Linked DNA regions of Homo sapiens. The protein of the gene in region 1 purifies or fractionates together with the protein of each later gene. This does not show direct contact. Each region holds a gene or a part of one and is shown in the gene's direction. Other genes may lie near its edges.

What was found.
Region 2: the proteins of CBS (region 1) and PDLIM5 fractionate together in Homo sapiens (co-fractionation; one large-scale study listed by BioGRID). This does not show direct contact.
Region 3: the proteins of CBS (region 1) and NMD3 fractionate together in Homo sapiens (co-fractionation; one large-scale study listed by BioGRID). This does not show direct contact.
Region 4: the proteins of CBS (region 1) and CTH fractionate together in Homo sapiens (co-fractionation; one large-scale study listed by BioGRID). This does not show direct contact.
Region 5: the proteins of CBS (region 1) and SEC24B fractionate together in Homo sapiens (co-fractionation; one large-scale study listed by BioGRID). This does not show direct contact.
Region 6: the proteins of CBS (region 1) and GPN1 fractionate together in Homo sapiens (co-fractionation; one large-scale study listed by BioGRID). This does not show direct contact.
Region 7: the proteins of CBS (region 1) and IREB2 fractionate together in Homo sapiens (co-fractionation; one large-scale study listed by BioGRID). This does not show direct contact.

What each region holds. Positions count from the first base shown.
Region 1 is NC_000021.9:43,073,036-43,077,120, reverse strand, and holds the start of CBS (cystathionine beta-synthase), read left to right. Parts: upstream 1-1,285; 5' UTR 1,286-1,351; exon of another isoform or gene 1,352-2,618; intron 2,619-3,779; 5' UTR 3,780-3,855; intron 3,856-4,085. UniProt on the Homo sapiens protein: Hydro-lyase catalyzing the first step of the transsulfuration pathway, where the hydroxyl group of L-serine is displaced by L-homocysteine in a beta-replacement reaction to form L-cystathionine, the precursor of L-cysteine.
Region 2 is NC_000004.12:94,650,942-94,654,441, forward strand, and holds part of PDLIM5 (PDZ and LIM domain protein 5), read left to right. Parts: intron 1-3,500. UniProt on the Homo sapiens protein: May play an important role in the heart development by scaffolding PKC to the Z-disk region. May play a role in the regulation of cardiomyocyte expansion. Isoforms lacking the LIM domains may negatively modulate the scaffolding activity of isoform 1.
Region 3 is NC_000003.12:161,227,811-161,231,310, forward strand, and holds part of NMD3 (60S ribosomal export protein NMD3), read left to right. Parts: intron 1-3,500. UniProt on the Homo sapiens protein: Acts as an adapter for the XPO1/CRM1-mediated export of the 60S ribosomal subunit.
Region 4 is NC_000001.11:70,435,268-70,437,809, forward strand, and holds part of CTH (cystathionine gamma-lyase), read left to right. Parts: intron 1-2,542. UniProt on the Homo sapiens protein: Catalyzes the last step in the trans-sulfuration pathway from L-methionine to L-cysteine in a pyridoxal-5'-phosphate (PLP)-dependent manner, which consists on cleaving the L,L-cystathionine molecule into L-cysteine, ammonia and 2-oxobutanoate.
Region 5 is NC_000004.12:109,461,315-109,464,814, forward strand, and holds part of SEC24B (protein transport protein Sec24B), read left to right. Parts: intron 1-1,586; coding exon 1,587-2,330; intron 2,331-3,500. UniProt on the Homo sapiens protein: Component of the coat protein complex II (COPII) which promotes the formation of transport vesicles from the endoplasmic reticulum (ER).
Region 6 is NC_000002.12:27,632,050-27,635,549, forward strand, and holds part of GPN1 (GPN-loop GTPase 1), read left to right. Parts: intron 1-583; coding exon 584-621; intron 622-2,796; coding exon 2,797-2,875; intron 2,876-3,090; coding exon 3,091-3,185; intron 3,186-3,500. UniProt on the Homo sapiens protein: Small GTPase required for proper nuclear import of RNA polymerase II (RNAPII). May act at an RNAP assembly step prior to nuclear import.
Region 7 is NC_000015.10:78,444,716-78,448,215, forward strand, and holds part of IREB2 (iron-responsive element-binding protein 2), read left to right. Parts: intron 1-3,500. UniProt on the Homo sapiens protein: RNA-binding protein that binds to iron-responsive elements (IRES), which are stem-loop structures found in the 5'-UTR of ferritin, and delta aminolevulinic acid synthase mRNAs, and in the 3'-UTR of transferrin receptor mRNA.

The sequences.
Region 1 (4,085 bases):
AGGATTTTTTTTTTTTTTTTTTTTTTTTTTTTTTTTTCTGGAGACAGTCTCGCTCAGTCGCACAGGCTGGAGGACAGTGGCGCGATCCCGGCCTCCAATGCCACCTTCCAGAGCCTTCATGATGTAACTCCATCCCTGTCCCCTCCCCACATCGCCGGCTTTATTGTTCTTCGTGTCAGTTCCTGCCAGTGGACATTTAATTCTAATTCACGTCTCACTCCCTCCCCTACTGTGAGCCCCACGTGGCAGAGACCGCGGCGGAGCTGCGCGGGCCGGAGGAGGCTGCGGAGCATCGCTCTGACCTGAGCCGGGGACGCTGCGGAGGCGCAGCACGTTCCTCTGCCCAGAGCTGATGGGCACCGTCCGTGTCTTTCGCTGCAGGTCCGGGGGGAGACTCGGGGGCCTGGGATCCCCCATTTAGCCATAGGGCGGGGGGATCAGGTTCAGCCTCTGAAAGTCCAGAGCACGATGTTTGGGAAACGGCCCCGCCCGCGGCCTCCGGGACCTGGCGAAGGAGCCCCGCGGGGCGCCCCTGCTACCACCCTGCGCGGAGTCGGCCCCGTCCCCGAGAGCGCCCGGCAGCCCCTGGCCGTGGGCCGCACCGGAGCCGCGCAAGGCGACTGTTCTGCGCCTCGGCTCGGGGTTCGGACCCGGCTCTGGGCGCGGTCACGCGGGGCGCTGCGCACGGCGTCCGGCGGCCACAGAGCGCGGCCATCGAGTCCCGCCCCGGCGCGGCGCCCCCTCCCGGGCCCGCGACACACGCCCTCGGGGTCGGTCCTCGAGGACGCGCAGGGCCCCCCACCCACCAGGACGCACGTTTCAAGCTCATCAGTAAAGGTTCCTTAAATTCCCGAAGGGCAAGAAGTTAACCAAGTAAAACAGCATCGGAACACCAGGTAGAAGACACCACCGGGGTCCGCGGGTGGGGGTGGCTGGAACCCGGGGCGGGCGGGCTCAGGCGAAGAGGAAGGCGGGGGAGGGGGCGGCGACCCGGGTCTGCGGTTGAATCAACAGGGCGTGGGAATGGGGCGGGCGGACTGGGGTGGGGGCATGCCGGGGTCCCGGGGAGGGCGGGGGTCGGGCAGGCCGGAGGGTCCCAGGCTGCGGCGGGGTGGGGAAGGGGTGGGGGGGAGGGGCCCGGGCTGGGTGGGGTGGAGGAGGGGCTGGGGGGGCGGGTGCTCTGCCACGAGACATTGGCCGGCGCCGGCCTCCGCCCCCGCCTCTCCGCCAATCACCGCCCGCCTGCTCCCCTCGCCGTGGGTCCCCGCGAGGCCGCCACCCCGGGGTCGCCGTCTCCGCCTCGCCGCAGTCGGGGCAGCCGCTCGCCCCTCTTTTCCATGTATCCGTCCAGGTGAGATCCGGCCCCACCGAGACTCGCTCCCCTCTCTGGACAGAGGATCTCAACTGGGTCCCGGTTTCCCTCTCCGCGCCTCCGCCCAGAGTTGCATCATCTGCACCGAAAGGCGGCGAGACAGGGTCTCCCAAGACCCCCGCCCCACCGGCGCCCACGCCTGCGGTCTTGACCGCCCAGAAGATGGGGGCTGGCCGTGCACGTGGCCCCGGGCTCCCACCCCAGCCCCCGCGCCGGCGGAGTGGACCCCACTGGCGGCGAGTCCTGGAGCGTGGAGCAGGGACGCGGGGTGGGAATCCGGGGGAGATGCACGTTTCGGTGCCCAGCATTGAGTTCGCTGCATTGTGGATGGGAAATGGCTGTTTGCAAATCGCCCTTTTTGGCGGACCGTGTGGGGTGGCGGTAAACGCTGTCGTTGCGCGGGCGGCACGCGAGGTGGGTGCCCGCTGGGGGAGGGACGCGGGGCTCTGCCCAGGTTGCGTTCGGGGGATGGAGGTTTTCCTGGGACCTCACTTCCCTGAGCCCCAGGCGAGACCGCAGCTGAGCTGTAGGATGCAAGCGGGAGGCGGAGCGTGGGTGGGAGAGCGGAGCGCGAAATTCTCGGCTTCCCGAGGATCTTCTGGGCTTACTTGTCCCCAGCTTTGTCCCAAAGTGTCGCTTCCGGAGGCGGAGTGGCCGGCGGTTTCCGGGTCTCAGTAGGGTCTGGATCTCCCACCTGGAAACCTAGAGGAGTTTCCCGCTCTCCGTGCGCGTGGCCTTCCCCAGGCCCCTCCGGGAGTGCTGGCGCGCGAGTGCAGGGGTGCCCCGGGAACGTCGTGACCCCAAGGGGGTCTTGTGGTTTAAGGAGCGAACGGAACCGGCCAGGCGATGCCAGCTGAACCCGCCTTCCCGGGACGCACGTGCATCCGGCCGCCCGGCGCTGTTGTCTTGGGGAGCCCGCGGGTTCGGGTCTGGGTCGCCTGGCGAGCTTTCCGCCGAGCGCCTCTGAGTTCTACAGAGCCCCGACGGCTTGCGATCTGCGTTCCCGGCAGTCCCTTACCTTGCGAGAGAGGGCTCCAGGGCGAGGCGAGGGGCCAAAAGCAAGGCGCTGGGCCGCCTGCGTCTGCCGGGGCCTCGGGTCCACGGCTTTCTGGAAGATTCGGCGGCGGAGCATGCGCGCCCCAGGCCAGACAGGGCCTGTGCCAGACGGAGAGTCCCTTCCCGTAGGTGACTCCCGCGACCCGCGGAGGAAGGTGCTGCTCCGCTCACGGCGGCGGCTTCTTACAAGGTTGGGATAGAAAGAAAAGCGTGGGACACGAACCTCTGAAAGCGGGTGCATTTTTCTGGGGAAGAGAAGATCCAACGCCTTCGGATTTTCAGACAAGTCCGTGGTCCCAAGACCTTGAAAGCACCACCCTCCAGGGTCGTTTGAAGCCGCTTTGGCCCCCAGTCTGGTGAATTGCAAAGGTGGAGGGGAGGCTGGGAAGTCCAGGAGGCCAAGCTGAGGCCTGGGTAGGGCCTGTGCGCAGAGACCACCTGAACAGCATACTCCAAGGGCTTCCAAAGGCAGCCGGCTTCCGCAACTTTTTCTTTTTTAATAGGCTTTTTAAAAAAAAAGCAGTTTTAGGCCGGGCGGGGTGGCTCACTCCTATAATCCCAGCACTTTGAGAGGCTAGGCGGGCGAATCACCTGAGGTCAGGAGTTCGAGACCAGCCTGGCCAACATGGTGAAACTTCGTCTCTACTAAAAATACAAAAATTAGCCGGATGTGGTGGCGGGCGTCTGTAATCCTACTCAGGAGGCTGAGACAGGAGAACTGCTTGAACCCGGGAGGTGGAGGTTGCAGTGAGCCGAGATCGCACCACTGCTCCAGCCTGGGCAACAAGAGGGAGACTCCGTCTCGAAAATTTAAAAAAGAGCAGTTTTAGATTTAGAAAAATTGAAAAAATAGATAGAGTTCCCCCAGTTTCCCCTGTTATTAAGATCTTAAACTGATGTCGTATATTTGTTACTTTATTTATTTTCTTTTATTTTTATTTTTATTTTTATTTTTTGAGACGGAGTCTCGCTCTGTTGCCAGGCTGGAGTGCAGTGGCGCGATCTCGGCTCACTGACCTCCCCCTCCCGGGTTCAAGCGATTCTCCTGCCTCAGCTTCCCGAGTAGCTGGGACTACAGGTGTGCGCCACCATGCTTGGCTAATTTTTGTAGTTTTAGTAGAAACGGGGTTTCACCATGTTGGCCAGGATGGTCTCGATCTCTTGACCTCATGATCCGCCCGCCTCGGCCTCCCAAAGTGCTGGGATTACAGGCGTGAGCCACCGCGCCCGGCCTATTTGTTACAATTAATGAGCCAATTCCACGATCACATAACCATTGTTGACATTAACCAAAGTCCGCGCTTGAGTCAGATTTGCAGAGTTTTCTCCTCACTGCCCTTTTCTATTCCAGGATCCCATGACAGATTCTGTTGTCACGTCTCCTTACAGAGTTTGAGCGGTGCTGAACTGTCAGCACCATCTGTCCGGTGAGTGACGGCTGTGGACTTAGTCTTCCTGTTGAATGTGGGGAATCAAAGGAGGGTGAAGCGGGGCTGAGCCCAGTCCTGGGCCCTCTGAAGAAGGCAAGGTGGGAGGTGGTCGTGGGTTCCTTGTCCCCCCAGAGGAGGGGCAGCAGATGGGACCTCGCCTGGCTTTCTTTTTGCTTTCTTCTTTTTTTTTTCTGTCTCATCTATTTCAGGTGCGTGTGTGTGTTTTT
Region 2 (3,500 bases), on another chromosome or scaffold:
CATGTACTTAGTAAGGGCTCACAGGACATCGAATACTAGAAGAGATAGCTGAATACTTAATTCCACTCTGCAGTTATCTAGGCCTGTCATTCCTGTTCACAAATGGAAACCCAATCCTACCTGGAACAAGAAGAACTTCTTTAGTGTTAATCCTGTGTTAATGAATTTGTTAAATTAGTCTTTGCTGACACAGAGAAGAAAACACTTTGCTATATGTGAAAGATTAATTTTATTGTTTAATCTGTGCATAATTTCAAGGGCATTGATGGAGAAAGATGCTCTTTCAGGACAGCCAAGAAGTATCAAGTTAGGCCAGTAGTTGCCCTGAGCATGCTTGTTTAAGAAAGGAGATCTGAGAGGAGCAAGGGTCATTTTCAGCTTGTTTTTTAAAGGTGCAGTGGGAATTTCTTTACTGTCTAAAATTCCTTTTGCTATTTGAAAGGAACTAATGAAATATTTTAAAGTCATCCTTTTAATGGACTGTAGTTTTAATTTATGTATTTATAGTGAACTATATTCCAGCAAGTTTGTAAAAAGACTTTTACAGGTATGTGAAATATAAGATAATCTTATAAATTACAAAAGGGGAAAAAGAATGAAATTCATCGATAGGCTCGTTAAAAATGAAGCTAACGTCGAGACTGGACGATACTAAAATAATGACCTGCCCACTTGCCTCTGGTTAGACTGTAAATCTGGCTTTAGGCCTTCTAGTAGTCTACCAAAAATGAAAGGTAGTTTTGCAATTTACAATAAGATAAAAATAAGACTACTGCTGAGGAAAAGCATAATAGTTCTTGCTGCAGAAATCAGGGAGGAATTTTTCTGAATGAGACCATGTGAAAGTGACGCTGGATGAGATCTAACAACACTCCAGCAACAACTTGCAGGAAGAGCAAGGGTGAATTTCATAGAGCTGTGTCCTGTAACAACTACCAGTACAGGTTCATGTATCACAACAAGCACCGTTCATAAAAGGAATAATCCTGCGGGGTGCAGCAGGCCCAATATGCTGTGATTCACAGAACCCAGTTTTCTGATGATCTGACTTGAACTCAATACATATTTTAGAAAATCTGGCAAATGGAATGTATTTTCCTTGGTCAGTTATTCTTAAATGTCTTTTTTTCTTCTCAGATGAACTTTGTCAAATATTTGATAGCATTGATAGACATGTTCCAGGAGCAGAGCTTTTCATTTTGTTCCAGGTACATACCAACACTTATGCTTTAACAGAATGCAGTTTGAAGTTGGATTGACTTCTTTGAAAACTGAGAAGCCAAATAAGAATACTAGCCTCAAGAGTCCTCCAGCCTTATGGATGAGCTAAAGATGTGCCCTAGTAAAAAACTCACCCTAGTAAATGGCTTTGAATCTGTTTTAATGTGCAGCCAGAGAGTAGCATGAAACCCCAAAGCTCTACCATGCTCTGTGTTATGGTCACAGTAAATTGAGCCTGGAAGATTTTTCATGCGTGTATAACCAGTTGCCCACCTGGCGGAAAAACACAGGGCACTCATCAAACTTTGTCTGGCTTTGAGCAGTGTGATTCCTGGTTTATCTTTGCTGATAAACTACTTGCCAAACATACACTGAGAAAATTAGATGAAGGAACTCGTTGAATAGGATTGTTATTTTATAAGTCAGTTGAAAATGATGGACCACTTACCAAAAGTAATATATTCGATTACAGAATAGGTGATCTGTAGCCTTTCTTTTCTGGCAGGAATTAGTAAACAAAGGCATTCCTTATTAGTCATAACAAAATTATGGTACCCTAAAGTTTTAAAAATAATAATAATAAACTGCCTATCTCAAACTTAAGAGAATGATATGTACTAGCTTATACAAAATGGCATCATGTTATTAATAAGAAACAAGTTAACAAAAAGTAGGGCTAGAAAATACCCTCTTACACCCCACGTAAAAATTTTTAATCACTCATCAAGAGCCTTTCTCCTTTTGTGACTCTTGCAGAATTAGGTGCTGATTCTGAGTAAACATCAATATGGTGACAAAGAATTTACAGTGGGAGATAGTTATTGAATAGCAAGGTTTATGTTATTGTCAGAATTTTAAAAATGCTGTGACTTTGCGATACTCATTGCTATGACTTCTCCTGTTAATAATCTGCCTGGAAGTCTGGTGTCTGATGCTTACCAACAATTACCATGTGGTCGCTTAGGGATGATAAGTGATGTTAATGAGGTCAAAGGCAGAATATCAGTTGACTAGAGCGGCATACTAGAAATCAGGAAATTCAACTTCTGGCCTTGGCTGGGTCAGTGATTTTATGATATTTGTCATATCTTTTGAACATTCTGTACCTTGGCTTCTCCATCTGTTAAACTGAATTCATAATAACTGTCCTGGTCTGTCTCACAGGAATGTTGCATGGACAAATTAGATAAGTGTAAAAGTGCCTTGGAGGTAAAGCTGCTCTATGAATATAAATTAGTGTGATATAGCTACTGAAAAGTATGTTGCAGAGGCTAGAATGGTTAGTCTCTGCAGGCTTCATGACTAGATAAGGCTTCATAATGGATTCCTGCCAAGCAAACCAAGCCCATCTTATCAGTTCATGACCATAAAGTATTTAATGGGGAAAAAAATCTCTTACAAACATTTGTTACCTTGATACAAATGTGTGTTAAAAATCGGTCATGTTGGGGAGGGGGGAGAGGGAAGTTGGTGCACAGTGGGTATAAAATTTCAGTTATACAAGATGAATAAGTTCTAGAGATCTGCTGTACAACATTGTGCCCATAATTAACAATACTACATTGTACTCTTAAAAATCTGTTAAGAGAGTGGATCTCATTTTAAGGGTTCTTACCACAATAAAATTAAATTTTTGAAATAAATCAGTCATATTTGAGTGAAATGAAACCTTTCTGAGTAGTTTCAGACAATTGATAATACCTAGTTTACAGTTCCTGTAGTCATTTTGGAGGGTGAGGACTTGATGTGTTTAGTAAAGTTGAGAAATAAATACATGAAAGAATGTGTGGGGAAGAGAAATTGTGGGGAAGAGAAATTGTCTCAGGTAATAGTTATTACTATTTTTAGCACTATGACTTACCAAATTGAAGTTTTTGTTTGTTTCTTTTGTAGAAGTGTCAAAGTCTCATCTCTGCCTAAACCATATATTTTTTTCTGGTTGCCTCATGTTCTGTCACAGTCACAGTTAACATCCTCATTCTCAATCCTACCCATGATGCAGACAGATTGCCTCATTTCAGCTCAATAAAACATCACCAAATTCCCTTAGGCAGAAAAAGGGTGGGGAGTGCCCTTTCTTGAAGGAATCCCTTAAGTGCACGTCTCCCGTTTTCTTTTCACATCAATGCAGAGTCCCTCTGTGAATTTACAACACCCAACACCCATGAGTTCAGTCCTTAAGAAGGAAAATTGAGCAAGTATTTAATTGGTTGGACATTGCATAAAAGAGGTCCATATCCAGGCTAACTCTAGAAATTTTATTCTCAAACTTAGTTGGC
Region 3 (3,500 bases), on another chromosome or scaffold:
TTATATATATTCTTTTTATGAAAAGTAAAAATATCTTTTTGCTTTAAAAAGACAGAATTTAATTTTTTTCCTTTGTTATTTATCGAGAATCTCATGTATAATTTTTTAACGGAAATTTTTATGTAAAACCATCACTAAACATAATTGGGATTATAATATTAGGGCTATGTTATTTGGTTTCTTTTTATTGTCATTATTGATCTGGAAATAAAATATTTGTGCCTGTCACTGAAAGTCAGTGCATAAATGTATTAAAAAAAATAGTTTGTTTAAAGTACAGTTTATTTCCTGATATAAAATTGAAAGTGATTGACACTATGAGTTTTCTTTATTTTAAGCTTTATGACTCACTTCTACCATGTTTTTAATTGAAATTGACTCTTTCAGATTGAAGACTTTTCTGATTCTCCTTTAAGCTCTAATAAAATTTCATGTAATAGTTCTTTGAAATTTCTGCCTTTATTTTCCTACTAGGTCCCAGCCAACCCCACAAATTTCTGATGGTCACTTTTTGGCGCTTCTGGCATAAAACTTTGTCTTTTTCCCTTCATATTTTAAAAAACCTTTTTGGTTTTTTTCGCTCCCCTCTGTTCTTGGTGATTTTTACTTTATCTTCTAATCTTTCTAATGAATTGTTTTTTTCCAGTAGTAATGTTTTTAAGTTCCAGAGTCTTTCATGTTCTTGATGCATTTTTTTTAAGTTTTTCTGAAGATTTTGATAATAGGACTTTTTTTGTTTCTTTCTGTTCCCTCATTTGTCTCTGTTTTTTTATGAAGTCAGTTTTTTGTGTGTCTTGGTTTTTTGCTTTTATACTTGGGGTTTTTGTCAAATGTCTAGTGAGTCTTAACAGTTCATTAATTAATTCATCAGATGTTTATTAAGTACCAACTCTGTGCCAAACTGCTTTTGGTGTTGGGGATATGGCAGTGAATAAGGCAATCCCTGTCTTAGAAAGCGTGTATTCTAATTGCACACTAACATGCCAGTGTGGAGCAGCATGTTAGTATGCAGCGATCAAAATAGGTGGATATATTACATGGTATATTAAAAGGTATATTCTGTGGAGAAAGGAGCTAGGAAGAGGATAAGAACTGTGCATGGAAGAGTTGAAATTTAAAGTAAGGGTGTTTAGGGGAGGGCTCACTGATAGGGTGACATTTGAGTAAACACTAAAGATTACAGTAAGGGAGGAAGCTGTGCAGAAATGTGGAGGAAGAGCATTAGGGGTAAAGAAAACAAATGTAGAGACCAAAAGCAAGAGCATACTTGTGTGAATAGAACGGAGTGGTGAGGGGAAAAGTAGTTGGGGATAGAGTCCAGAAAAGTCATGGAAGGCCACAGTGTGTCTGGCCTTGTAGGCCCTTATAGGGGCTGTTTCTTACTCTGAGTGTAAGGAGTATAGAGGGTGAAGGGCAGAGTAGTGAGATGACATGACTTATTAGTATTCCTCTGGCTGCTGTTTTTAGAATGGTTGTAAGGGAGGTAAAGGTGTTTAAGTTTTTGTAATAATCATGAGAAATGGTTTTGGATCAGCAATGGAGGTGGTAAGAAGTGGACAGATTTTGGATCTATTTTTAAGGTAGTAACATTTACTGATGTAGCTGGATGTGTTTTTGTAAGAGACAGAAGAGTTAAGGATGCCTTCCACTGTTCGTGACCTGAGCAGCCAAGTCACTGGGTAGGGGGCATGAGAGTTCATCTGTAACTGGTATTTAGATGTCTACTAGACACTTAAGTAGAAATACTGAGTAGGCAGGTTGATAAATAAGCCAATGAGTGGTCCAGTCTAGAGATAATGAATTTAGGATATAGATAGTATTTAAGGTCATGAATTGGATTAGATTATTTCAGGAGTTTACATAGAGAAGGAAAGAAACTGGAGGACTGAATCCTGGAATCATTCCTTTAATGGGTAATGATGAAGAAATAATTGGGTAATGAGGAGGAATCAGCAAAGGAGACTGAAAGGAGCTGCTAGGAGGTAGGAGGAAAACAGGGTGAGTGTGATGTCCTGGGAGGAAAGGGAAGTGTTTTAAGAAGAAAGGAGTGAGTAGCTATGTGATTTGCAGCTGATGAGTCAAGTAATGAGTTCTGTAGATTTAGTAATGTGGACGACCTTAATAACATGGGCAATTTCTGTTTAGTGGTGGTGGTAAAGATGTCATTTAAATAGAAATTAAAATGGGAGAAGGAAGATAGACAGTTCTTTTGAGATTTGCTGTAAACGAAAACAAAGAAATGGGGCAGTGGTTGAAGGGGAAGTTGGGGAAGGGACACTTGTCTTTTTATGTTATTTTATTTTTTGGAGATAAGGTCTTGCTTTATTGCTCAGGCTAGAGTGCAGTGGCGCTGTCATGTCTCACTGCAGCCTCAAACTCCTGGGCTCAGGTGATCCTTCTGCCTCAGCCTCCTAAGTAGTTGGTACTACAAACATGCACCACCACACCTGGCTGATTTTTATTTTTACTAGAGGTGAGATCTCTCTCTTTCTCTCTCTTTTTGGCCCTGTAGAGCAGAGATCTCACAATATACCCAGACTGGTGTTGAACTCCTGAGCTCAAGCGATCCTCCTGCCTCAGCTTCCCAAAGTGTTGGGATTACAAGCATGAGCCACTGTGCTTGGCCAGGATACATTTCTTAAGATGGTATATATAACTGTATTTGTAAGCTCTCTGGGAGTGTTAGAGTACGGAGGGAAATTTTTGTGAAATTGCAGGGAGAAGAATAATTGGCTGGGGGGTGGCCTCAATAAGTGGAAAAGAGATATAGTACATAGTGAAAGAATACATTTATTTGTTAATTCACTCCTTCATTCAACAAGTATTCAGCACTTACTCTTCACCAAGCACCATTTTGGGAGGCTGTAATATTTCATGGAACAAAGTAAAGATCTCTGCTCTCTAGAGGGGCATTCTGGAGGTTGATCTTGATGGGAGTATGGATAATTCATCTGTGGTAACAGCAGGGAAGGTGTTGAGTGGGAGCTTCTGGGAATTCTCCTCTGGTTCCTTCTTTTGTACTGGAGAAAACAGAAGCGTGGGCAGTAGCTATGTGGGAAGAGCTGTTAGATAGATGTTTGAGGAGAGAGCGGAAGATATGAAATAGTCCTCTAGAACTAGAGGAAATGCACCAGGACAGTGTTGGATGGGTGCTGGGCAGTGCTGAGGGTTACTGTTACAAGTTTAGACTAGTCACTGTGGTGTGCATCTATTTCTGTAGTTCTGTCAGCCACATAGTCAAGGCATAGAGCAGGCAGAGCACTGGATTTAACCAAATTTATAATTTAGCCTAGTGGCTAAGGTGAAATAAGAGAGGGAACAAGGAAATTGAGTGTGTACATGAGAATAATTTTGATTATTGATTTTGAAGCTAGTGAGGAGGAATGAGGAATAAAGTTGGTAGGATGAATGGATTGTCCATTATATTAGCTTGAAAGATATTTGGTGCCCAGGAACTAGAGGAAATAAGCTGGAAAGATGGGAGGTGGTAGTCAGGGAGT
Region 4 (2,542 bases), on another chromosome or scaffold:
AGATATTTAACAATAAGAATAGCAGGACATTAATCAGAATGGACTCTAACCCTGTCAAGATGGAGACCCTGATAAAATCTCATGGAGGGCTTCTTGTTAGTGAGCGGTGTCCTCCCAAATGTTGCTTCCTTCCCTGCTCTGTCAAAAAGAGATTCCAGCAGTAACTGTATTCTAGGATCTCTGATCTCTGACCTCTAAGCAAGGGCCACATGTTCTACCCTACTCAGCCTTAGAGGGGATTGGAGACTTTGTACTAGAAAAGCTGTTTTCAAGGCTCTTTGGGAAACAGAAAATGTGTCTCTGATGAAACTCCTCCATGCCCTTGATTGTTGGAGAACAGCCCTACTAGATACTGTCAAATCTTTTGTTTTCTGTTCTCTGTAGGATAAACCTTTAATGTCTTCATGTTGTGTACAAGATAAATCCAAACCCTAACTTGGTACCAGGCCCTTCAGTATCTAACCCAATCAATTCATCTAGTTTTTTCAAAGCATCAGAGGATATTGGTACAAGAAGCAGTCTAAGATCATACAGTCCAGCAGCTTATTTTACAGGCAAGGAAACAAAGATCCAGAAAGTTGAGCTGATTGACTCAAGTGTCACACAGGAACGTGTTCGCAGCTTCACTCTTGGATTTGCATCAGAAACAGTGAGGGGAGGTAAAAGGTGCTTGGATCTAGATTTGAGATCTGCTTCCACCAATTAGTTAACCTTTAAACTTCCATTTTTTAACACATAAAATGAGATTAATAATTAATGATTTTCGGCCTGGTGCAATGGCTGACGCCTGCAATTCCAGTACTTTGGGAGGCCGAGGTGGGCCACTTGAGGTCAGGAGTTCAAGACCAGCCTGGCCAACATGGTGAAACCCTGTCTCTCCTAAAAAAAAAAAAAATTATCCGAGTGTGGTGGTGTACACCTATAATCCCAGTTACTTGGGTGGCTAAGGCACGAGAATCGCTTGAACCCAAGTGATGGAGGTTGCAGTGAGCCGAGGTTGCAGCAAGCCAAGATCGCACCACTGCACTCCAGCCTGGGTGATGCAGCGAGACTCTGTCTCAAAAAAGAACCAAAACAACAACAAAAAATTAATGATTATCATTTATTGATTACCTGTCCCCCCAAGCATTCCTGATATATATATTACCTTTATTATATGCTACTATGACCATATGTTGTAATTACTGCAGGGTTAAGTCAACATCATAACCTAACTATTTTTAACTGTACTAAATGTATACGGTGTATTTCTGTGTCTTCATTTTTATAAACATTTATGGAATAACTTGTTTTGCAAGCATTGTGTGGAGAAATGTCAGGTCCCACCAAAGTTTAGGCCTATTTTCTGTCTTTGTATAGGAGTTTACAGTTAGACCAAAAGTCAGGCAGTCTCACCAAGTTAAAAAAAAAAAAAAGATGTCTAAATAATGACTTGAAATAATTCATGTAACGCAGATTTTTGTTAGTCTTTCCGGAAGATGCCTGCTAGTAAGTTTGGATGCACAAGAGGGCACACTCAGCATGTGAAATGGGTTTGTTTTTCACAGTAATGAAATGTGTATTACGTTAAGACTCTCTTGTTTAAAAAATTGTCTTAAAATAAATCTCTCCTGATTTATTTAGGGATTTTTGTTTAAAGTTGCTTGGCCCCCAGACACTCTGGTTTAGGCTATAACCCCGATGCCAGAGGATGAGTGGATTTAGGTCAGGGCTTGTCTGTTCTATCACCCTTCATTCTGTGTCTCCCAACTCTGCTGCTACTAGTGCAGCATTGCAATATGGGAGGAAGGAAGTGAAGCTAATGTGTATTAGCTTAGTCTCCCAGCCTCACAACACATGTAACTCTGTGACCTTAGAAAAGTTACTCATCCTCCCTAAATCTCAATTTCCTCAATTTTAAAATGTGGACAACACTCTACATAGCTCTTAGGTTTGTTGCGAGAACATGGGGAAAAAAATCCCTAAGCTAATGCCTTCGTTCATACTAAGTACCCAATAAACGTTAGCACCTACTATGAACTATTATCTTTTATTAGACATCTCTACTACATTCCAAGTGCTTAGAAGTGCTTTATACATGTTCCTTCAAATTAATGTCTGTGACAAACCTTTAAGACAGGTGTTATATCCAATTTTTATTCATTAAAAAAATGAATTAATGCACACAAACCACCTAGTAGAGTATCTGTCTCATGGTAAGCACACAGTAGATGCATCTATTATTATTTCAGATAAGGAAATAGGCACTGAGGATGAGTAACTTTTATAAGGCCACATAGGCAGTATGTGGAAGGGCTAAGATTCATACCCAAGTTTGTTGGTCTCTGAGACCTGAGTTCTTATTTCTACATGTACACACTCTTTTAAGGAATTACGAGTCTCCCAGGGCAGAACATTTTAAGATGGATGTTTGTATCTAAACAACACTTTAGTAAAGTGACAAAGGAAGATATCCATCACTCAGACCACAGCTGAGATTTTTTTTTCCCCATGGCTCTCATGTAAGAGAGGAGAAAGCAGCTTAGGTATTGATTTTGCTGGT
Region 5 (3,500 bases), on another chromosome or scaffold:
TTGCCAATAATGTCAATTTTAAAAACATAAACCTTTTGAACTTCCAGTTTGACTTCTAGAAATTTGTCTTATAGCTTCATCATAAAAGTTGACCTCATAAATATAGATTAGTTCAACCCCAAGATATTCATCAATGGAGATTTGGTGAATAATGTTATATCTCTACAATAAAGTACTATATGTAAATTTTTAAAAGAATAATGAGGATTTATATATGCTAATACTTAAGGATATTCAGCATATATTAAGTAAAAGCAAGTTGCGGAACTGTAATATCCTTTTTGTGTGTTTAAAAAATCAAGTAAATTATATACATGCTTACATATGCATTACATAGATACATGGATATACAGAGGATGCATAAGCATTAACTGTAACTATATCTGGGAAATAGGATATAAGCTACTAGGCAGAGATTTTTAATTCATACTCTTTATTGTTTGAATTTTTTCTACAGTGGGTATATTGTTACTTTTCTAGTTAGGAAAAATAAAAACTGAGAAAAAAGTTTTAGCTGTGTGCAGTGGCTCATGCCTATAATCCCAGCATTTTGGGAGGTTGAGGGAGGAGAGTCACTTGACTCTAGGAGTTTAAGACCAGCCTGGGCACACAGTGAGACCCTGTCTCTACAAGAAAATAAATTTAGAAACATTGGCTGGGCCGTGGTGTATGGGAGACCAGCCTGGGCAACACAGTGAGAGCCTGTCTCTGTAAAAAATAAATAAGTAAAAATTAGCTGGTCACCATGGTGCACGCCTGTGGTCCCAGCTGCTCGGGAGGCTGAGGTGAGAAGATTGCTTGAGCCCAGGAGAACAAGGCTGTAGTGAACCATGATCATGCCATCGCGCTCTATAGCCATCACACTCTATAGAGCCTGGGGTCAGAGCGAGACCCTGTCTCAAAGTTTAAACTTCTTCCAGGATGGGTATATTAGTTACTGATAGCTGCATAACAAAATACCCCCTAAGCTTAACAACTTGTAAAACAACAACTATTTATTTCACAGTTTCTCAGGAAGATAAACTTGGGAGCAGCCTAGCTAGGTGGTTCTGGCTCAGGGTCTCTCATGAGATAACCTGTTGGCTGGGCTATAGTTATCTCAAGATTCTACTGAGTTTGGAGGATCTGCCTGAAAGCTCAGTCGTGGTTGTTGGCAGATCTTAGTTTCTCTTTGGCTGTTGGCCAGAGAGTTAAGTTCCTCCTTGCATGGGCTTCTTCATAGGGCTGTTCACGGCTTGGCAGGTTAGCTTCTTTCAGACTGGGGTATCTGAGAGAAAGAGAGCCAGAGCTCAAGACTGGGCTAACATGGAAGTGACATATCATCACCTTTGCCGTATGCTACTGTTCATACAGACCAGTCCTGGTACATTGTGAGGGAGGACTACAAGGGTGTGAATAACAGGAGGTGGGGATCATTGGGGGCCATGTTGGAGGCAGGCTACCATAATGGGTCTATAACAGTGTATACCTTTTGTAATAAGTTGGGATTATGGAAAAGAAAGTTAATTGCTTCAATATTTAAATGGGGGCTATTTTTAAAAATTAGTTATCTCTTTACAAATACCTGTAAATACTTGCTTTTTCAGGTCCAGCCCAGAATCAAATGCAGGTTCCATCTGGATATGGATTGCATCATCAAAACTATATTGCTCCCTCAGGACATTACTCTCAAGGACCTGGGAAAATGACCTCATTGCCATTGGATACCCAGTGTGGTGATTACTACTCTGCTCTCTATACAGTACCAACACAAAATGTGACTCCTAACACAGTGAACCAGCAACCAGGAGCACAGCAGTTGTACAGCAGGGGTCCTCCTGCCCCTCATATTGTGGGATCCACTCTAGGATCTTTCCAAGGTGCTGCATCGTCAGCATCCCATTTGCATACGAGTGCCTCCCAACCATACTCCTCTTTTGTGAATCACTACAATAGTCCAGCCATGTACTCTGCCAGCTCTTCTGTTGCGTCTCAGGGATTTCCCTCTACTTGTGGTCATTATGCTATGTCAACTGTTTCTAATGCCGCGTATCCTAGTGTTTCATATCCCTCTCTGCCTGCTGGTGATACATATGGGCAAATGTTTACCTCACAGAATGCTCCGACTGTTAGGCCAGTTAAAGATAATTCATTCTCTGGTCAAAATACAGCTATCAGCCATCCATCGCCACTTCCACCTCTACCATCACAACAGCACCACCAGCAGCAAAGTCTTTCAGGATACAGTACTCTAACGTGGTCATCTCCAGGCCTTCCATCGACTCAAGACAATCTCATCCGAAACCACACAGGATCCCTGGCTGTAGCGAACAACAACCCAACCATTACTGGTAGGTTGAATGAAAAGTTCACCAAAACATGTTTGAAAATCAGTGCATTCCCAATTAAGTTATTATTTACATGAAGGTTAGAGGTGATATTGCCTAATAGAAAAACTGGAAGTTTGCTAATTTATTGTGGCTTTTTGTAGCACCTCTTTGAACCCTTTCTTCTCATCCATTCCCAATTAGCCACCCAACCATCTGCCTTGTCTAGCTTGGTTCCTTGCCATGATCAGTCAACATTTATTGATATATTTTATACATCTGCAATAGTTGTCTTTAATGTGAATTAGATACAGGGCAAAATGGAAGGGTCTGTTTTGAGGATATGTTGGCCACTATTTTCTCTTTTATACTAGTTCAACCTTGGGACAGTTGTTTTTTTAGCCAGAGCCCCACTTACTTAGAAAAAAGGATGGTTTGCAGCAGTGCACTGGTTTCCCCAAGTTAGCCCCTATTAGTGACTTTTGCAGAAGACATCTTTCCTGCACGTAAACAGTGTTTCTCATTTTCAGATTAGTAAGTTAGGCTGAAAGATGGGGAAGGGAAAGGAAGATGCATGAAGAATACCCTGGTATTCAGCCCTTCTGACCTTCCTAAACCAAGGTGTTGTTAAATTTTTTCATTTAAAAATTATGTATGTAAGACGTGGCTTGCCCTTTTTTTTTTTTTTTGACACAGGGTCTCACTTTATCACCCAGGCTGGGCATGATCTCAGCTCACGGCAGCCTTGACCTCCTGGGCTCAAGCGATCCTCCCATCTCAGCCCCACAAGTAGCTGGGACTACCAGGCATACGCCACCACACCCAGCTAATTTTGTAGAGATGGGGTTTTGCCATGTTGCCCAAGCTGGTCTCGAACACGCGAGCTACTGTGCCTGGCCCAATGTGGCTTTTTAAGTGCAGTGTTTCCTTTCCCTAGGATATATTCATTTTAATTCAATTTGTGACTTGAATTTAACAGAATCTGCTTTTGAACCGAATGAAAATGCATGTAAAAAATGGGAATTGGTAAAGCTGTGGTAACTTTTGGAATGATGCCTTTAGATTGTGTATCATTATCTGGATAGCCATGTGTCAAAGATGCTGTGGAAAGATATCCTTCTCTGGACAATGAGATTATTTAAAATTAGAACTTTAATATTAGACCCAAGCTGTACATTTGAGATCATCTACTCT
Region 6 (3,500 bases), on another chromosome or scaffold:
ATGAGAAGGTGATCAGTATGGTCAGACACTTCAAATTTAATATTTGTGACAGCTAATAAAAATCCAAAAGACCTGGGTTATTTTCTTGACCTGTTCTTTGCCTGTGGTATTACCCCGAAGCTGGGATGGGGGTATTTGGGAGTGGGATGGACTAGCAGTCATGGAATGGAAAGATGATGGGGCATTTTACTTGTGATAAATATTTGTCATTCTTTAGGTTTTCTTTGTCACCTACTTCCATAAGAGTGTTTTATAATCACTGGTTTTTATACTCTGATGTTAGGCCATGAGACAGGCTGTTAACATTTTGACAAGAGATAACAACTTGACATTGACAGATCAAAGTCTTCAGCTTCTCAGATCCTTGGATTGTGCCCCAAGATGGTATTGGAGTGCTGCTGATGTGGCTGTGTTGCTTTAGTTCAGCCTGTTTATTCTTTGTTGTCCTAAGATTGCAAATGTTCAGTAGGTGATTGAGGGATTCAGTAGGTGATAGTGCCTGTGAGGTATGCCACCCTGGAGAGGGCTCTGTGATTTTGTGTTGAAATCGGAATTTGTTGTCATTGACATCTTTTTCTTTTAGGTGATGAAATTTATTGAGAAGGCCCAGAACATGTCCAAGTAAGTGATGTCAGTAACACCCATTTATTACTCTGTAGCTGACATATTTCTAGGCTTCATGGAGGATCTGGGATACCATCAGCCTCTGAAAGAATATAGATTGAGATGAAACCATTAGGAGTGAAAAAAAAATTGGCAAATCATTAAGATGCTTTAGAATATAGAGCTAAATTTAATATCATTTCATCCTCAATTACTTTGATCCCCAATTTACATGGCTTCTTAGGAGCTCTTTTGAGACTTTGTCCCAATTCAGTTGTCCACCTGCCTTCTCTTGGGAAACCATGCTTGTTGTCATTAAAGTATCTGAAATACCTTTCTAATTCTTATTTAAATGAATATAGTCTACATGGTTCAGAGAAAATTTTTTAATTTACAGAGTGTCAGAATAGGAAATATTTGTTCTTATGGCCATTACCCAGTTAGCTGTTGTTCAAGGTTTACTTTTTTTAAAAAAGATAATTTATTGTTTTATAAAAATTCAAACCATGCATGATATTTATAAGATGAAACCATCACCCCGATTCCCACTAGAAGTAACATCATCATTCAGCGACTAGCATTCCACATTTCTATATACACAGATAGAAGGATGAATGGATAAAAGTGCTTTTACAAAAATGGGGTACTAGAGGTAGCTTTTGTTTTGTTTTGAGACAGGGTCTTGCTCTGTCGCCCAGGCTGGAGTACAGTGTAGTGATCTCAGCTCACTGTAACTTCCACCTCCCTGGCTCAGGTGATCCTCCCACCTCAGCCTCCCAAGTAGCTGGGACTACAGGTGTGAGCCACCACACCTGGCTAATTTTTGTATTTTTGTATTTTTGGGATGGAGTCTCGCTCTATTGCCTAGGCTGGAGTGCAGTGGTGTGATCTTGGCTCACTGCAATCTTTGCATCCCGGGTTCAAGCGATTCTCCTGCCTCAGCCTCCTGAGTAGCTGGGATTACAGGTGGCCTGCTACCATGCCTGACTAATTTTTGTATTTTTAGTAGAGATGGGGTTTCACCATGTTGGCCAGACTGGTCTCAAACTCCTAACCTCAAGTGATCTGCCCGGCTTAACCTCCCAAAGTGCTGGAACTATAGGTGTGAGCCACTGAGCCTGGCCTGGAGGTATTTTTTTTTTTTTAATGACAGCTTTATTAAGATATAATTCATATACCATAAAGTTCACTCGTTTAAAGTGTATGGTTGTTTTAGTCTGTCCACAGAGTCGTGTGTTGATAATTACTATCTTCAGAATATTTTTGTCATCCTGAAAAGAAACCCCATACTCATTACCAATCACTCCTTATTTTCTGTTCCCTTTAGCCCCTAGTGACTACCCCATTTTCCATTCCCATTGGCAATATGATTTCTCCACAACCAGTTCCTCCATAACCTTGCCAACTTTTGTTATTCTTCTTGTTTTTGATTATAGCCATTCTAGTGGATATAGAGTGGTATCTCATTGTGGTTTTTACTTTTATTTTCTTAATAACTAATGATATTGAACATCTTTTTAATGTACTTATTGGCCATTGGTATGTATATATTTAGAGAAATGTCTATTAGAATTCTTTGCCAATTAAAAAAATTCTGATATAATTCATAATTATATCAAATTAATTCACAAAAAAGTTGATATAGTTCATAAAAACAGCTTTATTGAGATAATTCACATACCATACAATTCACCCATTTAAGGTATACAATTCAGTGGCTTTTAGTATATTCACAGAATTGTACAACTATCACCACAGTCAATTTTAGAATATTTTCATCATCTCAAGAAGTAACCTGATATTCTTCAGCTAGCACTTTCCCATTCCTCCCATTCTTCTTCCTCTGTTCCACACTCACCCCCGCCCTAAGCAACCAGATGTTTCCCAAGAGATTTACATTCTGGTTTTGTGTCTTTCATTTTAAATGCATTGTGTTTCTATAAAAGTTTCCCCTGTGATCATTTGCAGCAACTCATGGTCTGCTGTTCCTGCCCATTGGCGTGAATATTGGTCATTGAACAAAGTCTAGGGGATCATCATGTGCAGTTTAGGGCCAGTAGGAGGAAGTTAGATTTGGCAGTGTGCAGAGGTTACTCCAGTCTTGGATAACCAGATGTTTATTGTCTTATATGATGGAATATCCTTCAGCATAACACAAATGTAACACTTCTTTAATGATCTTTCTTGACATAGATATGTGTTGATTGACACACCTGGACAGATTGAGGTATTCACCTGGTCAGCTTCTGGGACAATTATCACTGAAGCCCTTGTGAGTATTCTAGGACTTGCTACTGAGAGTAGCTAGAGGGGCTAGACTGGATGAGCATTTATTTTTAATTGCCTTGGACTTTATATGGGAGGAAGTTGTAGAAGCTCTGCACACCCTGCCTAAAGTGGTTTTCCCTTGTTAAGGATGGTGGAAAAAGAGTTTGAGGACAGATCGTGAGCCCTCTGACCAAGGCTTTGATTTTTTTGTGGCTTTAGGCATCCTCATTTCCAACAGTTGTCATCTATGTAATGGACACATCGAGAAGTACCAACCCAGTGACCTTCATGTCCAACATGCTCTATGCCTGCAGGTAATTGATTGTTGGTGGGGAAAGTGTTCCATCAAGGTATAAGGCCTTTTTCTCTTCTTCTTCCTCTTTTTTTTTTTTTTTTGAATCTGGTTGCTTACCCCTGGATTTGTGCTCATTCAGATTTGCTGTTCAGTTGAGTGGCTGTGAGCTGGGGAAGGTCAGAGGAGAAAAGAGGCACATGTGCTGTTGGCATTCTCTCTCAATACCCTCTGATCTTCCTCCCTTGTTGTTACAAAAAGGTGATGTATGAATATGAACTGTCTGATAGTTGTTCCCAGTTGGATAAAATCCAAGTTTAAAGATAAAGTCCTCTGG
Region 7 (3,500 bases), on another chromosome or scaffold:
CTACTTTTAATAAAAATAAAGTATATGTTGTTTTGTAACCCTTTTTTTCACTTAATATATCATGAACATCTTTCCATGTCATTGAATACAGGTATCCCTTGCTATCTGAATCTACTTGGTTTCTGAGTCAGGGAGCTTGAGTTCAGGTAGAAAGGGATACCTGTACTTCTCTGTGGCTTCTAATAGCTGCACAATATTGCCTGTATGAATGCATTGTGGTTTAGTTAACAGACCTTTGAATATTGAGGCTGATAGTAACTTTTCTCTATTTATAAATAAACTTTGTATGTGCTAATACTTACATTTTTGTGCAAACTTATCATTATATAGAATTGTTGGATTGAAAGTATGTTATTTCCTCCACCCCATCACACGCTTTTATTTTTATACTTTCACTATTTACTGTTGGTTCCAGTCTTTATTTTTTTTTTTTTTTTTTTGAGACAGAGTCTTGCTGTGTTGCCCAGGCTGGAGTGCAGTGGCACAGTCTCAGTTCATTGCGTCCTCCAACTCCTGGGTTCAAGTGATTCTTCTGCCTCAGCCTCTGGAGTAGCTGGGATTACAGGCCCATGCCTTCACACCCTGCTGATTTTTGTATTTTTAGTAGAGACAGGGTTTCGCCATGCTGGCCAGGCTGGTCTCGGAACTCCTGGCCTCAGGTGATCCACCTGCCTTGGCCTCCCAAAGTGTTGAGATTACAGGCATGAACCACTGCACCCGGTCTGGTTCCAGTCTTTACCTTGGACTAAAAAGAACAAAAACTCACTCAAGTAAAAAATAGGTTGCAGTTTCCAGACATCCAAAGACAAAGGAAGAAAGCATAGTCAAGTTTCAGGGAACCAGAATTTCTAAGCCAGAGGCAGTGTTCTGTTTGTCACTTAAAGGCTGCCTGGTTTCCTTATTTTCTGTTTCTTTTTGAATATCCAGTCTTCCATCTCTACAGCCTACTTCACTTACTCATTTTTGTATAATGCCCAATATGGCCACTGCTGACCATTCTTGTATGTTATGACTGGATTACTAACCGGTTAAGAGTGTACCTCTAGGTGACTCTTTTACTTGTTTTGTTTTGTTTGTTTTGTTTTTTCCCTCAGGGTCTTGCTCTGTTGCCCAGGCTGGAGTGTAGTGGTTCGATCATGGCTCACTGCAGCCTGGACCTCCCGGGCTCAAGTGATCCTCTTTCCTCAGTCTCCCAAGTAGTTGGGACTACAAGCACATGCCATCATGCCTGGCTAAATTTTAAATGTTTTGTAGAGACAGGGTCTCCCTACATTGCCTAGGCTGGTCTTGAATCCTGGCTTCAAGTGATCCTTCTGCCTCAGCCTCCCAAAGTGCTGGGGTTACAGGTGTGATCCATTGTATCCAGCTCACCTGTTGTTTTAACCTATTTTGACTGCACTTGTCAGGAGTCTATTGCCGGTCTGGTGATCTTGCTGGTAGAGACACAAATCTGTTCATCTTGTCTTTTATGTGGACTCTTGAAAAGACTGGGTTGGGTAAGCAATGTAACAGTTTGCTTGTAATTTGTACACATAGTACATAACTTTCCAAGGATTACCTTTACCTAACATCATCCTACTAGTCCATGTATAGCCATGTGCTCACCAACCCTCCACATTTCAACTTTGTTTTTATTGCCAATTTCTATTCTAGATTAGGCCCTTTTGGTTCCAAGGAACAGACACTAGCTCGAGTGAAGAAGGATTTATTGTAATGATACAGCGCTCCCCAGGCCAATGAAATGTGGCTGTCTCTCAAGAAAATGGTGGTGGCCCAGAATTAAGGAAGTTGTTTATTATTTTCTCTTAGGAGCTTCAGATTTCTGCCCTGTTCCACTCTTCTGCTTCCTCCACTTCACTATAGACAAGCCTCCTCTGCCTGCTCACTTTGTACATGGCCTCAAATGGCAACCTCAGTCCCTAGCTTAGCTCTTAACACCTTTCCAGTTCAGTCTCTCTGTGTCCTGATTACACATTTCTGAGAGGTGAATCTAATTGCCCCAGTGTCTCCTTTCTCACAAGACTTTTGGTCATCAGCCTACCAGGGGATTGGCTTTTGCGTCGCTGCTGTAGCCAAGGAGGCCACAGGCCACCGAGAACTGTAGCAGTTTGGACAGGCACCATGAAGGACATCTGTTGTATAGTGTTAGCAAAGAATGCCAGTTTACATGCTTACCAGTGAATGAGAAGAATATGTGTTTCTGCACCTTCATCAATAGTAGATATTATTTTTCTTGTTGGCTCAATTTCTGTCAGTGAATGAAGAGAAGAAAAAAAACTTTCTTCTACATTAAATTGGGGGGTTTATTGTGAAGATTTGAAGGAAATAAGGAAATTGAGGGGATCTGAGTGCGTGGTCAGATCAGACTCTTTGTTCCCTTCAGTAGGCATGCATAGAACCCATGATTCTGGCTTAGCTGATTTTCCCTATTTCTGCTTTCCTTTCTTTTTCTTTTCTTTCTTTCTTTTTTTTTTTTTTTGAGACAGGATCTCTCTTTGTTACTCAAGCTGGGGTACAGTGATGCAGTCATAGTTCACTGCATCTTCAACCTCCTGGACTCAGGCAATCCTCCCATCTCAGCCTCCCACTACAAGAAGACACCACTACACCTGGCTAATTTTTTTTTTTTTTTTGAGACGGACTCTTGCTCTGTCACCCAGGCTGGAATGCAGTGGCACCGTCTCGGCTCACTGCAACCTCCGCCTACCAGGTTCAAGCAATTCTCCTGCCTCAGCCTCCTGAGTAGCTGGGATTACAGGTGCGTGCCACCATACCTGGCTGATTTTTGTATTTTTAGTAGAGATGGCATTTCACCATGTTGGCTAGGCTGGTCTCAAACTCCTGACCTCAGATGATCCACCTGCCTCGGCCTCCCAAAGTGCTGGGAGTACAGGCGTGAGCCACCACTCCCGCTCTGATTTTTTTTTTATCTTTTATAGAGACGGGAGTCTCCTGAACTCCTGACCTCAAGCAGTCTTCCTGCCTTGGCCTCCCAGTGTGCTAGGATTACAGGCGTGAGCCACCATGCCCGGCCCATTATTCTGCTTTTCTTTTTCTCTTGGTTCTTTTTTGTTTCCATCTGTTTTCTGCCTTCTCCCTAAGTCAAGTTCAAGGTATCACAGAACGAGGCTGAGGCAGCCTATTGGACATGACATTTGTGCTTGGCGAACTCCCTGTGCCACTGGCCAGACTGTAAATTGGTTGTCTGTTGGAAGGCTGGCTCCAGGTCCCAGCTATTCATGCCAGGATGGCAAGGCTACACAGAGCCCACCAGCAATTGGTATAGAAGGAACTTTTTAGAAAGAGGGCTGTGGTATAGGCATTCTGAGGACGTGCCAGTACAGGTGAAAAAACAAAATCTTATGCAGGAATCTGTTTTGTTTTCTGCTTCCTCAGACTCTCTCAATGGCAATGTATGTATGTATGTATGTATATATTTATTTATTTGAGACAGAGTCTTGCTCTGTCATCCCAGCTGGAGTGCAGTGGCATGATCTCAG